Linked DNA regions of Homo sapiens: region 1 is linked to region 2. Evidence: fine-mapped expression QTL. Tissue or cell type: whole blood. Region 2 holds a variant in brackets; the other region holds the start of a gene. All regions are shown on one strand. Distances are between the middles of the regions.

Region 1 (4,155 bases), 93 kb after region 2:
CACACACACACACACACACACACACACACACACCCCAGAACCGAACATAGGCGCTCAGGGAAGGAAGGAAAAAGAAACCAGAGCACAAGCGCGGATCGGGACCTGTGGGTGGCTTTTAATACTTGAGTTGACACGATAGAAGGCGACTTTCGGAAAACAGGTCCCGTTTGCGCTGAGGGAGTTGGGTTACGGGAACCGGTTCATGCCTGTGACCCCCGCCTCGGGAGACCTCCTGAGTAGGGAAGCTCCCACAGGCCCCGCACAAGGGGTCCTGGTGGCAGTGGTCGTGTGGACAAAGGAGGTAGTGCCCGGGCGCCTACGGCTGGGCAGCGGGCGGGTTTCCGTCGTGGCCTCCTGGCAGGGCTCAGACGACCTGCCCGTCAGGCTCCGGGGAGGCGCCCCGGGGAGGAAGACCTGCGTCTGGGCCCTAACTGTGAGGCGCAAAGTTATTATTGGCATAGGGTGGGGAGGGTAGCTTCCTGTGCTCTTGCTCCCTCCTGGCACAGCCCAGAGGCCCAGGCCAGACAGTGGCCCCGACAGCTTAGTTCTCATCGCGGGGGCACTGGCAATGTGGCGGCGGGGCAGCAGCCTCTGACCGGGCAGGGAGCCGGACCAGCGAGAAACTTAGTGGCGTGCAGGGGCGACCCCGGCCCGGGGCTGCGTCCTGGGAGGCCCTTCTCTGACTCAGAGCAGCCCATTGGGATGCCAGGGGGTGCCCGCGGGCATCCGAGGGCACCATTTGTTGCCCATGCCGCCTTGGCTGGGACACTTGCAGGGTCCAGGAGGTGTCACCAGGCTGGCGGGGCCTGGGTTCAGGACTTCAGCGCTAGGGCACGGGGTGGGGGTGTCTGGGGGGCTGGAGCCAAGTGCCTAGGCTGCGGCAGCTGCGCGCTACCCCCTCCCCTGTCCTGCGGCTCTGCGACGGCACCGGTGGGGGTGGGCGCGGGCCGGTGCCTGCCACTTGGCCAGGCATCTCCGCGGCCCCGGGTGTCCCCTCTGCCTCCCAGGTCTCTCTCTTCGCTTCTAGATACAAAGCCTGGGAGAGTCAACCGCGCGAGATAAGATCACAATTTCAGCCCGTCCCGACAGAACGATCTTATCAGGACGGGACTTGCAGAATGTAATATTTTAAACTTTATCTGAGCCCAGATCGGGGCCGCCCTATCGCCGCACCATCTCGCAGATGCGGGGGAGGGGCAGGCCGCGAGGGGCCGAGCTGCCCGGGCCGCGCCCCCAAACACCCTCCTCCCGGCCTCCGGGCGGCCCCCTCCTGGGCTGAACCCCCCGGTGCCCAAGCCGAGACGCGGGGGCCCAGGCCGCCGGCGGAGATTAGATTACGGCGCGCTTGGCACAGCGCGGGGGGCGCGGCGCGGGGTGAAGGTCGCCGGCGCCCAGGGCAGAGCGGGGACGGGCGGGGGCGGCGCTGGCGGCTGGGCTCCGGCGGGGGTCGGGCGCGCGGAGGGGACCGCGGGCAAAGTTTGACTCACGCTTGATCTGCCGGGGGTTGCTCTGTTTCCGCCTGGACATGTCTCCGGCGCCGCGCGCCCTCCCGGCGGCCGCCTCTAGCCCCGGGCGGGCGGCGGCGGGCGGCGGGGGCGCGGCGGGGCCGCGGGGCCGCTCATGCCCCCGGCCCCCGGTCTCCGCGGCCGCCCCGGCCCGCGCCCCCAGCCCGCGCGCCCAGCCCCGGAGCCGCTGGAGCTGCCGCGGAGGCCCGAGAGGCCACGGTCCTGCGTTGCGGGCGCGCGGACTGCCCGACGGGCGGGTGCCGGCTCCTCCGCTCCCGCGCACTCGCCGCCGCCGCCGCGGCCGCTCGGCTTTTCTCAATGGAACCCGCGGGCGGCGAGCGGCGGAGCAGGCGGCCACTGCGAGGGCGCTCCTGGCGGGCTGGAGGCACGGGGCGGGGCCGGGCCTGAGCGTCGTCGGCCGCCGCACCTCCCGCCCCGCCCCCGGCGCTCCGGCCCCGCCCCGTGCCTCCTGCCGGGCCCTGCACCTCTCCGGCTCCGCCCCCAGCGCCGCGGCCACGCCCCCGCCAGCCCGGCTCTTCGTTGCTCTGGCTCCGCCCCCAGAGCCGCGACCGCGCCCCCGCCCGCCTCGCTCTTTACGGCGCTGGCTCCGACCCCAGCGCTGCGGCCCCGCCCCTGTCCGTCTGGGCCTTCAAGGCACTGTCCCCGCCCCGCTCGATGCCCCGCCCCTTCCTGGTTCGGCCCCGCCCGCGCCCCGGGGAGACCTCTAGCCTCCCCCACTCCTCTTTGGCCCGGAGGTCATGTCCCCAGGCCGCGCTGGGAGTCTGAGACCTATTCGGTTCTGTTCTGCTGCCCCGCGGCACCGCATCCTGCGCCCCGCCTCTCGGCGCCAGCTCCGCCTCCAAACCTGACCCGACCTGGTTGGGTCCTGAGACGCCGAGGCTCCGCCCCCGCACTGTAACTCCGCCCCCAGCCCTTGGTCCCTCCCTAGACCCCTGGGCTCTGCCGCACGCTCCACGTGCGCGGTGGGGGCAGTGACAACCGGCTCAGGAAGCCCGAGGCCTTGACGCCCACGTTTCTCTTGGGCCAGACTTGGGGTGTGGAGCGGATTCGGGCCAGGGAGGGGGCTTCCGTCCCAGACTGCGGTGGGGTCCGCCAACTGAGAGCAGGATCTCGGGTCTTCCCCTGTGAGCTCAGACCAGGCTGGAAATCGAGGAGGGGGCGCGGGAGCCGGCAGCCCTGGGCGTTGCCACTTGGGGCCTCTTTCCTCACCGAGCCTCTCCAGGGCGCCCCGCAGGAGACCCACGAAGGAGTTGCCCACAGCGCCCGGGCCACAGCCCCCTCTCGGAGCAGTCAGAGGTCAGCGAGGTTTGTGGGCGCGGTGCTGTCAGCTCAGGCCTGGAAATGGAGAACTGTTGCCCTCTGGGGTGTGTTCAAGAGCCCCACTTCACGGAGGCTCGGGGACTTGCTCAAGGTCACGCATTGGGGGGCTGTCCCCCACTCCCAGCTGAGTTGTATCATCTCCTTTTAATGTTCTCGGTCTACACTTGCTACCTGCTCCCCCATCCCCCGTACTCATAAGAAACGGGCGTCAGTGGGCCCAGGGGCAGACAGGAAGGACCCCTCCCACCTGATGATGAGATCATCGCACAGCAGGACTGTCACACCACCCGCCAGCCTGCTGGGAGCTCCTAAGACCCCATCTCGTGCCAACTTCTGTGACCTATTCCCTGGCTCCAAGGAAGGGGAGAAGTGGGGGCTTACCCTCAGAGCCTGGTACAGGAGAGTGGCGGGTGGGTAGGAGAGGCAGGGGTACAACACTGGATATGCGCCGTCCCTCCCCACTGCCATGGACAGACAGGAACACTGAGACCAGGAGGCCAAGAGAGCTGCCCAGGGGCATACGGGTCCTCCAGCCCTTCCTGCTCTCTGCCAGGGTCCAGTGGGCACAGCCTTCCCACAGCTGCTCTCTGGAGGGGGTGGGGCCCATGTCTGATTGGTTCACTCAACCTAGGACCTCCCCCCCACCCTCCCGCCCCCACCCAGTGCTTGTCAACTGGATGGAGCACCTACCTGTCTGGGTTTCCCACCAGGCCTCGCCTCCTTCCCCAAAGAAGTCCACTTTAGAGTATGTGGACCTGTGAGTTAGGGGAGTTCCTGGAGGAGGTGGCCATGGGCTGGCACCTGGGCTGGGTCTGAAGCTCCACGCACAGCAAGTGGCACCCAGGCTGGCGCTGCTGGAACGGGCGGAGATCTGTGTTGAGGTGGATTCCGAGGGTCAACAGGAGACAGCCATGATCATCCATGATTGATGTCTGTCTAGGCTGCAGGAGGAGACGATGGGGATCATTTTGGCTGCTGCTTTGCCTGATCTGATTTATTTCTATGAGCCCATATATAGATGAAAACATGGAGGGACATGCCCAGGGAAGCCAGCGAAGGGGGCAGGCGGCAGGTCCAGACCACAGCCTGCTGCCCTGCCTCCATCACTTGCAAGGCCCCATGCAAAATGAAAATATGAAAATGTGGAGCCCCCTTGATCAAAACCCCCAAACCCCAAAACCCCAGGGCATCAAGGGCAGGATGTTGAGCCCGGTGTGGTGCCCTTCCCAGCTCGGGCCCTGTGCCCCTGCACCGGTCACAGGTCCCCTAACCCTGCCAGGGCTGCTTTTGTAGCACATTCCTTCTACAC
Region 2 (4,155 bases):
TACTGTAGTGTGTGGGTGGGGGCTCCGTGCCCTGGAGACCCCCGATCATCTTTCTGGCCACAGGATGTCCTGCCTGTTCTATGCCTCCTGGGTGTGGGGGGAACCAAGGGTCCAGGAGGGGAACTGTGCAGTCTCATGGATCAAAAGGGCCAAGGTGGGGTGAGGCCAGGGTGTCTGCAGCCCAAGCACATACCCATGAGTTTCACACTTGGATGGTTGTCACCCTCTGTTCCCTCACCTTCCCCACCCTCTGTCCCCTCACCTTCCCCACCCTCTGTCCCGTCGCCTTCCCCACCCTCTGTCCCGTCGCCTTCCCCACCCTCTGTCCCCTCGCCTTCCCCACCCTCTGTCCCCTCGCCTTCCCCACCCTCTGTCCCCTCGCCTTCCCCACCCTCTGTCCCCTCGCCTTCCCCACCCTCTGTCCCCTCGCCTTCCCCACCCTCTGTCCCCTCGCCTTCCCCACCCTCTGTCCCCTCGCCTTCCCCACCCTCTGTCCGGTCACCTTCCCCACCCTCTGTCCCCTCGCCTTCCCCACCCTCTGTCCCGTCACCTTCCCCACCCTCTGTCCAGTCACCTTCCCCACCCTCTGTCCCCGCACCTTCCCCACCCTCTGTCTCCTCACCTTCCCCACCCTCTGTCCCCGCACCTTCCCCACCCTCTGTCCCCGCACCTTCCCCACCCTCTGTCCGGTCACCTTCCCCACCCTCTGTCCCCTCGCCTTCCCCACCCTCTGTCCCCTCGCCTTCCCCACCCTCTGTCCCCTCGCCTTCCCCACCCTCTCCTCGCCTTCCCCACCCTCTGTCCCCTCGCCTTCCCCACCCTCTGTCCCCTCGCCTTCCCCACCCTCTGTCCCCTCGCCTTCCCCACCCTCTGTCCCCTCGCCTTCCCCACCCTCTGTCCCCTCGCCTTCCCCACCCTCTGTCCCCTCGCCTTCCCCACCCTCTGTCCCCTCGCCTTCCCCACCCTCTGTCCCCTCGCCTTCCCCACCCTCTGTCCCCTCGCCTTCCCCACCCTCTGTCCCCTCACCTTCTCCACCCTCTGTCCCCTCACCTTCTCCACCCTCTGTCCCCTCACCTTCCCCACCCTCTGTCCCCTCACCTTCTCCACCCTCTGTCCCCTCACCTTCCCCACCCTCTGTCCCCTCACCTTCTCCACCCTCTGTCCCCTCACCTTCTCCACCCTCTGTCCCCTCACCTTCCCCACCCTCTGTCCCCTCGCCTTCTCCACCCTCTCTTCCCTCACCTTGTCCACCCTCTGTTTTCTCACCTTAGAAATGAGCAGAAAGGTGCAGAGATGGGCGATGGGTCTGGACAGATGTTTCTCCATAGACATACAGTGGCCAGTGAGCAGGGGGATGCTGCGTGGCACTGCCGGTCACTGGAGAATGCAGATTACAGCCCCAGTGAGACTCCGCTTCTCATGCATTCAGATGCTGAAGTCAGACAGTGCTGCAGCATGTGTTGGTGGGATGTGGAGGCCTGGCATGCACTGCTGATGGGAACAGCAATCGGTGTGACTGTTGTGGAAAGTAGGGTGACAGCCACTCAAAAGCTCAACCTCGGGCCTGGGTGCGGTGGCTTATGCCTGTAATCCCAGCACTTTGAGAGGCTGAGGAAGGAAGATTGCTTAAGTAAGGAGGTGGATACCAGACTGGGCAACATAGTGAGATGCCATCTCTACAAAAAGTAAAAAAAAATAGCTGGGAATGGTGCTGCACGCCTGTGGTCCTCAGCACCTAGGAGGCTGAGGTGGGAGGACCCCTTGAGCTCAGGAGGTTGAGGCTGCAGTGCACCGTGATGGCGCCATTGTTCGCCCTCTGCCTTTGATTGGAGAGTGATGATTTCCTCGTGCTGGCTGGAGACTGGAGCATCCCATGTGCATGCTTCCTGAACTTCTATCTGACTTTACTTGTATTATTATTATTGCAAAGGTAGAAACAAAAAGAGACGCA[A/G]GATGGTCGGGCACAGGACCCCTGTCCCCAGCTCATGAGGTGCCACCGGGATCTTTTTGCAGCCCTGGCCGGCCCTCTGTGCCCTGTGTCCCACCCTACTCCAAGTCCCAGCTATCCTGAGTCAGGTGCAGCAGCCTTCAGGAGCCAGTGGGGCTCACTGAAGCGGGTCTCACTGGCTGAGGTCCAGGCGTGAGCAGGGCTGGCCCCAGCTGGGAGCTCCTGAGGAGAACCAGCTGCTTATTCTGGAAGCCTCCCCGTTCCTTGGCTCATGGCACCCCCCCCATCTTCAAAGCCCATTGAGTCCTCCCATCCCACCTCTCTGGTATTCTTCCTGACCCCTCTTCCACTGATAAGAACTTTGTGATTATGCTGTGCCCACCAGGATGATCCAGGGTAATCTCTGTATCTTGGGTCAGCTGATGAGCAACCTCAACTTCCCCTGCAGCCTTAACTCCCCTCTGCTGCATGAGGCTGCGCCTTCACAGGCTCCCCCTGGGGATGAAAACACAGGCATCTTTGGGGCCATTCTTCTGCCAGCCGCCCCTCTCCCGGCATCGTTGTCTATGTCTGCTGCCTGTATTTGAATCCAGTGTACGTGCACACCTGAGTGGCCCTGCATCTCCCGGCAGCGTCCATGGTAAGATTCCCTGTGCTGACTCACAGAGCCAGACGTGGTGGCCCAGGCCCATAATCCCAGCTACTCAGGAGGCTGAGGCTGGAGAATCGCTTGAACCTGGGAGGCGGAGGTTGCAGTGAGCCAAGATGGAGCCACTGCACTCCAGCCTGGGCGACAGAGCAAGACTCCGTCTCAAAAAAAAACCCAAAAACAAAAAAAAACAAAAAAACTAGTAGTTAGACTGTGTGTTACCATGTGCTGATGTTTATTAGTTACTGAACTTGGGATTAACTGACTTCTTTGTCAACAAGGTCTAAACCAAGCCACACACCCTCATGGTAGCCTCTTCCAAGTCTGAGGTTTGCTGAGGGAGGGTGAGTGCAGCCCTGAAGTGGGAGCAACCGAAGCACAAAGCATGATGTGAGCAGGAGCCCAGCTCCCTCCAGCCACTGCAGACATTGCATCAAAAACTGCCCCCGTGTTGGCCAGGTGCGGCGACTCATGCCTGTGATCCAAGCACTTTGGGAGGCTGAGGCAGGAGGACCAATCGAGCACAGCGGTTCACAGACCAGCCTGGGCAATATAGTGAGACCCTGTCTCTTATTTTATCTATTTATTTATTTATTTTTGAGACAGAGTCTCGCTCTGTCACCCAGGCTGGAGTCAGTGGCGCGATCTCCGCTCACCACAATCTCCGCTTCCCGGGTTCACGCCATTCTCCTGCCTCAGCCTCCCGAATAGCTGGGACTACAGGCGCCCACCACCACGCCTGGCTAATTTTTTGTATTTTTTTAGTAGAGATGGTGTTTCACCGTGTTAGCCAGGATGGTCTCAATCTCCTGACCTCTTGATCCACCCATCTTGGCCTCCCAAAGTACTGGGATTACAGGCGTGAGCCACCCCGTCCGGCCCCTGTCTCTTCATAATAAAATTTTTATAATGAAGAAATTGCCTTGGTGTGTTCCATGGTGGTGTCTGTGATTGTGGGAACCAGTTTTCTTTTCCTTGGCTATTTTCAAATTTCACTGGTCCTTTAAAAAAACACACAGTAGAACTTTAAAACAACAACAACTAAAGTCGTACATTGACACCCAACAAACACCACAGCTCCTGGTGAGGTGAGAAGTGGCTTTTGACTCACAGGGAGTCAGGGCTGCACTGAGCAGTTTGCAAATCTCAGCTCCAATGATCATGAGGTATGAACAAACTCGCCAAGGCTACCTGCCTGAAACCACAAGTGCAGCCAACAATGATGATCTTTGGTAGTGCTTTTTTTTTTCTTTTTTTTTTTTTTTTTGAGACGGAGTCTTGCTCTGGCGTCCAGGCTGGAGTGCAGTGGTGCGATCTTGGCTTCTTGGCTCATTGCAACCTCTGCCTCCCAGGTTCAAGTGACTCTCCTACCTCAGCCTCCCGAGCAGCTGGTACTACAGGCGCCAGCCACCATGCCTGACTGATTTTTGTATTTTTAGTAGAGACGGAGTTTCACGTATTGGCCAGGCTGGTCTCGAACTCCTGACCTTGTGATCTGTCTGCCTTGGCCTCCCAAAGTGCTGGGATTACAGGTGTGAGCCACCACACCCGGCCTCCC

Evidence for each region. PIP is the estimated chance that this variant, and not a neighbour inherited with it, causes the effect.
Region 1: it holds the start of ZFPM1, and the variant in region 2 is fine-mapped to the expression of ZFPM1 in whole blood (TOPMed, PIP above 0.99).

The regions. Positions count from the first base shown.
Region 1 is chr16:88,451,011-88,455,165 of GRCh38, reverse strand. ZFPM1 (zinc finger protein, FOG family member 1) reads right to left here and starts at 1,886. Exons shown (of 10, transcript NM_153813.3): 1 at 1,488-1,886. The coding sequence starts at 1,527. RefSeq lists silencers at 882-951, 1,172-1,301, 1,762-1,851, 1,862-2,161.
Region 2 is chr16:88,543,954-88,548,108 of GRCh38, reverse strand. No RefSeq gene overlaps it. Among named protein-coding and RNA genes, the nearest start is that of ZFPM1-AS1, 15 kb to the right of the region's middle. The variant A/G (reference allele first, on the strand shown) is at 1,952.